Regions from separate parts of the Homo sapiens genome. Here region 2 is linked to region 1. Evidence: fine-mapped QTL for protein levels in blood plasma. A gene starts in region 1. The other region holds a variant in brackets. All regions are shown on one strand. Distances are between the middles of the regions.

Evidence for each region. PIP is the chance, under the fine-mapping model, that this variant and not a neighbour inherited with it causes the effect. The UK Biobank Pharma Proteomics Project read protein levels with antibody pairs (Olink). The fine-mapping took linkage between variants from a reference panel, not from the people measured, so its PIPs are less certain.
Region 2: its variant is fine-mapped to the plasma level of the DKK4 protein (UK Biobank, PIP 0.99).

Annotation. Positions count from the first base shown.
Region 1 is chr8:42,375,886-42,378,809 of GRCh38, reverse strand. DKK4 (dickkopf Wnt signaling pathway inhibitor 4) reads left to right here and starts at 1,581. Exons shown (of 4, transcript NM_014420.3): 1 at 1,581-1,875. The coding sequence starts at 1,765.
Region 2 is chr8:43,527,426-43,530,349 of GRCh38, reverse strand. No RefSeq gene overlaps it. Among named protein-coding and RNA genes, the nearest start is that of POTEA, 240 kb to the right of the region's middle. The variant T/C (reference allele first, on the strand shown) is at 1,494.

The DNA.
Region 1 (2,924 bases):
TTTATTCCTAACATGTAATCCGAGGCTCTGTTCCATGCCAAGTGCTCTAAGTGCTCAGTGGCTGTTTGTGCCGTGTTACAGGAGTTCCCGTCAGTTCTTTCGCCTGTGTATATTGCCAGGGGCCTTTGGTAACCTGAAATTCCCTTACAGTGAGGCAGCAGGAAGCAGAGAAACCCGGCAGAGACAGAACCCTGGGGGCTCTTTCCTTTATCCTTGGTCATAATTGTACAACTTGAAAATAAATTCTGTAACACCCCTAGTCACCAGGGTTATCATGCTATCAAAGGGTGTTGTTTGATGTCAGTTTAAGGGATTAAAACAAGTAACTTCCATACGAGAGGTAGACAAGCAATACCAACCCAAGGACAAGGGCCAAGTAGTAGGAAGGCTCGAATCACCTGCATCACCCTCGGAATGGCACTGCATTACTCAAAATTGAGAATGTTCCCATGCACAGAATGCTGAGATTCATGTCAATGAATTGATGTTAGGTTGTTCTGCAGGAAAATGTAGTAAATAATAAGATTATCATTTATGGCATAGAAAAAATGCATTTTAGATGACTCTATGCTAAGAGCAATGAAACAATGAAGAGAAAAAATGATTTTTTGATCCAGATCTAGATTGTTCTACCCTTAAAGTATTTAAGACAGTGATAAGCACATGTCTAAATTACCTGACTAATAGTCCAAATGGAAAAAAATCAGACAGGAAAGGGATGAAGCAGAAGTTTTAAAAAATTCGTATTAGGAAAATTGGAAATACATGAAATTTCATCTGAAATCAGCCAGAGACTTGGATCCTTGTTCTGCTTAAGTGAGTTTTACATAATGCAACACAAATTAAATATGTTGCTGATAAAATGGACCCAAAGCTTCGTACTGAATTGTGTAAAATGCGCTATCATTGTTCCCACCATTGAAAAATGGGATTTTCATAAATTACATTATTTTCCTAATAACCCTAACTTCAAACAGTTCAATTTTCATTTAAAGGAAAGTAATTTCCCAAATGGCATTTAGTCAGAACAGGTGCTGTTACGTTCACAACTTTTAAGCGGTTGGGATTTTGACATCTGGATGCCAGAGCTAATCAGGGGGCGTTTTCTCTTTTTCTATCTGTCCTCACTATCTGAAGCCCAGTTTACAGCTTCTCAGTGTATTTTGTACCTCATTAGTTTTTGGCATCCTCTATAGCATATTGGCCAGTATGATTCATCCTTTCTTTGAGCACAATTAGCTGTGAAAACAGATCTTAGGGCAGACTCCCTCCCTACCCCCAAAGGATTACTGAAGGTAGGAAATGCAGGTGATTATCAGAGTTTGCCTTTGATACAGACATCCTGCTCTGCCGTGGCCCTTTGAACTAACTTTGATATGCAATAATTAAGAGGGATTGAACCCCTGGAGGAGAAGCCGCATGGCCCTGCCTCTTCTCTCCTTCTATTGAGTCCTTGTTTTGAACTATTGATCAAACAGATTTGAAGGGATTTGTTGAAGCCTGTGTGGGGCAGGAGGAAGGAACGGAGCGGGGAGGAGGCACATCTGGTTATAAATAGTTTCAGGAGGAACCTGCTGGTCAGACTTTGCTCAGCCGATTTCACGCACCTTACTCAGACTAAGGTTTACTTCTTTCAGAAAAAGCAGTGACAAACAGACGACGTGCTGAGCTGCCAGCTTAGTGGAAGCTCTGCTCTGGGTGGAGAGCAGCCTCGCTTTGGTGACGCACAGTGCTGGGACCCTCCAGGAGCCCCGGGATTGAAGGATGGTGGCGGCCGTCCTGCTGGGGCTGAGCTGGCTCTGCTCTCCCCTGGGAGCTCTGGTCCTGGACTTCAACAACATCAGGAGCTCTGCTGACCTGCATGGGGCCCGGAAGGTAAGGCTGCTAGGGAGGGGGGCGAGGTACGGGACTGCTGACAGCTGGGGTGTTTTGTTTAGGCTTTAGTAAGTCATTCTGATTCATGTATGAAATGTCTTACCTAGCAGGTAAATTGAATTGGTTTCGGATTTGGGAGGGCATCCTGGTAGGATCAGTGGCCTTAGTGTGAATGTATGAAATAAACACAGTGGCTTTTCACATCATTCGGCCATACGTTTGTCTATAAATCACGAAATAAACGAACACTTTGGAAGCTCTACTATGTGCCAGCTCTTTTACATGTAATACGTCATGTACTCTTCCTCACAATTTGAGATAGGTGAAACATTCCCTAATTCCAGATGAGGAAATAAGACTCAGAGATGTTGAAGAGCTTACCCAAGCTCACACAGCCAGCAAGCAAACATGGGAATGAGAATTTAAACAGAGGGCCATGATGCATTGCCTTGTCACCATCTAACTTCACAGAGAGAGTTGTTTTAGGAATCGCTTTATGTATGTGTATATGTTATTATATATCGTATAGATTATTACATATATCATATATGCTACACCTACGTTGTATGTCTATGTAGAAGCATCAACTGTGTATGAGAACAATTGATCTTCGGTATCTCTTTCTCTATGTCAATGAGGCATCATTGAAAATCAAAGGACAGTTCACTTAGGGAAGGGTCTCTAAGCTAAATGTGATTCACTAGAGTAAAAAATCAAATAGGAATGCCACAAACATCAATAGTATGTTTAATGAAACTGTAGCCAGCTTCTAGAGTTAAGATATATTGAAAATCTCATACTCACCTGTTAAGACACACATAGGAAAACATTTTTTCCCATTTTCACAAAGAGCACAGGAAAACTAAATTCTGAGTTAAGTCAATTTTTCAAACTCAAATAGCCTTTGCAGCGCCTAGGTCTCCCCGGGTGACATGAGCTTCCCTTTGTGGGAGAAAACCATTTCCACTGGAGAGTAAGATGCTGCCCAGGGTTTGTCACAGCGCCACTGTCCTTTGGCTCCCTCCGCCTCCTGCCTTCAATAATAAGTC
Region 2 (2,924 bases), 1.2 Mb before region 1:
GGGCCCCTTTGACATATGTCTTGAGCTGGAGAGAAAGCAGATGAAATGCAAGAAGCGGTCTCTTGAGGCTGTGCGGGGATGTAAGGCCCTGGGCCTGGCCCATGAAACCATTCTTTCCTCCTAGGCCTCAGAACCTGTGATGAAAGCAGATGCTGCAAAGCTCTCTCAAATGCCTTGGAAGCCTTTCCCCCATTGTCTTGGCTATTACCACTTGGCTCCTTTTTACATATGCCAATTTCTGAAGTCATCCAAAATTACTCCCCTAAAAATGGGCTTTCTGTTCTACCACATGTCCAGACTACATATATTCCAAACTTTTAATCTCTGCTTTCTCTTTAAATATAAATTCACACTTTAGGTCATTTCTATGCTCACTCATATGAAGACAGGCAATTAGAAGCAGACACACAACCTCTTGAATGCTTCACTGCTTATAAATTTATTATGCTAGATATTCTAAATTATCACACTTAAGTTCAAAGTTTTAAACATCCCTATAAAATGGGCACAAAGCAGCCACATTTTTGGCTAAGGCAAGACAAAAGTGACCTTTGTTCCAATTCCCACTAAATTCCTCATTTCCCTATGAGACCACCTAACCTGGCCTTCACTGTCAGCATTTCTGTCAACATTTTGATCATAATCATTTAAACAATCTCAAAGATGTTCCAAAATTCCCCTTAAATCCCCATCTCCTACTGAGCATGCCAAACTCTAACCTCTGCCCACTACCCAGACCCAAACCTCTTCCCATATTGTCAGGTATCTTTAGTCAAGTGTTTCACTCCTCAGCACCTATTTTCAGTGTTATCATGTGAAAATAAGTTTTAACTGCCTCATAGTTATGCAGCTTGTATAAAAAGCATAGTAGTTTCCACTTCTGAGAGGCCTCATGAAACTTCAAGTCAGAAAGGAGGGCAAAAAAAAGACTGAGACATCTCATATAATAAGCACAGAAGCAAAACAGAAAAAGAGGTACAACCCACTTATAAACAACCAGATCTCATAAAAACTCACTCACTATCATGAAAACAGCATCAAGGGGATGGTGCTATACCATTCATTAATAACCCACCCACATGAGTCCATCAACACCTACTGTCCAAACTTCATCATTAAAAACTAAAATTTGACATCAGTTTTGGCAGGGACATGAAGCCAAACCATATTACCCTGCCCCGTCCCTCCAAACCTCATGTCATTCTAAAAATGCATAACTTGAGAAAAAAGCCTGCAAATTTACCAAACTTTTAAGCTCCACTTCTCATTTAAAGGTAAGTTCTGACTTGAAGTCATTTTTTGGTCCACACATAAGAGAACAGGCTGTTTGACACAGGTGGGACATATCTACAGCTGTGCTAGTTAGAAGTTCATTCCACCGAATATACCCTAAATCATCACCCTCAAGTTCAGAGTTTCACAGATCTCCAGGGCGGGGCCACCATGCAGTCACTTTCTTTGTTAATGCCAAACAAAAGTAACTTTTGCTTCTG[T/C]TCCCAGTAAGTTCCTGATTTCCACCTCAGACCTCCTCACTCTGGCCTTCATTGTCCATTCTTCTGTTGACCTTTTAATCACAACTATTTAACAAGTCTCTACAATGGTCCAAACTTTCTTTTATCTTATTCTGTTCTTCTAAGACCTCCAAACTCTCTGCCTCTGTCTGTTACCCACTTCTAAGCTGTCTTCTACATTTTCAGGTATATTTGTCAAAGCCAGGTAATGAGGTAAAAGAAGAAAAGTCCATTTTCAGAAGTAAAATTCAAGAAGGCTTAGATATATGCATAAAACAAAACCTGAGTGCTAATAGCCAAGACAATGGAAAAAGGGCCTTGAAGGCATTTCATAGCTCCACTCCACAGTACCAATTTTCTCTATGATCATAAAGAAAAGAGGTTTAATTGCCTCATGGTTCTGCAGACTGTAAAGAAGGCAAAGTGGGTTCTACATCTGGCAGGACTCAGGAAGCTTCCCAATTATCCCAGAAGGCCAAGGAGCAAAGAGATGTCCCATATGGCCAAAGTAAGAGCAAGAGAGAGAGGAAAGTGGTGCCACACACTATAAAAAAAAACAAACAAAAAACCCCGCAAATCTCATGAGAACTCAATATCATGAGGACAGCATCAAGGAGATGGTGCTTAACCATTGGTAAAGAATCTGCGCCCCACCCCCATGCCCTGAAAATGTACAATACCCCTCTCTCCAAATAAGCTCCGAGCCCACCACTCTAGTCCTGCAAACTCTGAACACCATCCCCACTTTTCACCTCTCCTCACCTTGGCATCCAGACCCAACCACCAACATGAAATATTATGATATGATGTCAGTTTTAGTAGGAAAATGCAGCCAAATTATATGATTCTGCCCCTGGTCCCCCTCAAATTATACCCTGTGAAGCAGTAACCCAAGCTGTACCTGTACATCTTTGAACCATGACTGGAGCTGGAGTTGCAGCTGGAGCTGGAGCTGCAGGATGCAGGCAGTGGTGTCCTCAGGCTACACACAGAAGCAAGGCCAGGGGTCTGGTAGAGGAAACCATTCTTCTCTCATAGGTCCCAGGGTCAGTGATACCAAGGGCTGCTGCAAAGGTCTCTGAAATGCCTTCAAGCCTTTTCCCCCATTGTCTTGGCTGTTAGCACTGGGCTCCTTTTTATGCAAATTTCTGAAGCCTTCTTTAATTTCCCCCCTGAAAATCAGCTTTTTTTTTTTTTTTTTTTTTTTTTTTTTTTTTGCCACTTGGCCAGGCTGCAAATTTTCCAAACTTTTAAGCTCAGCTTTTCATTTAAACACAAATTTCAACTTGAGGTCATTTGTTTGGTCACACATAAGAGCATAGGTAGTTCAATGCAGGCAGGACACCTCTTGAGCTTTGCTCCTTAGAAGTTCATTTCACCACATACTACCTAAGTCATCACCCTCAAGTTCAA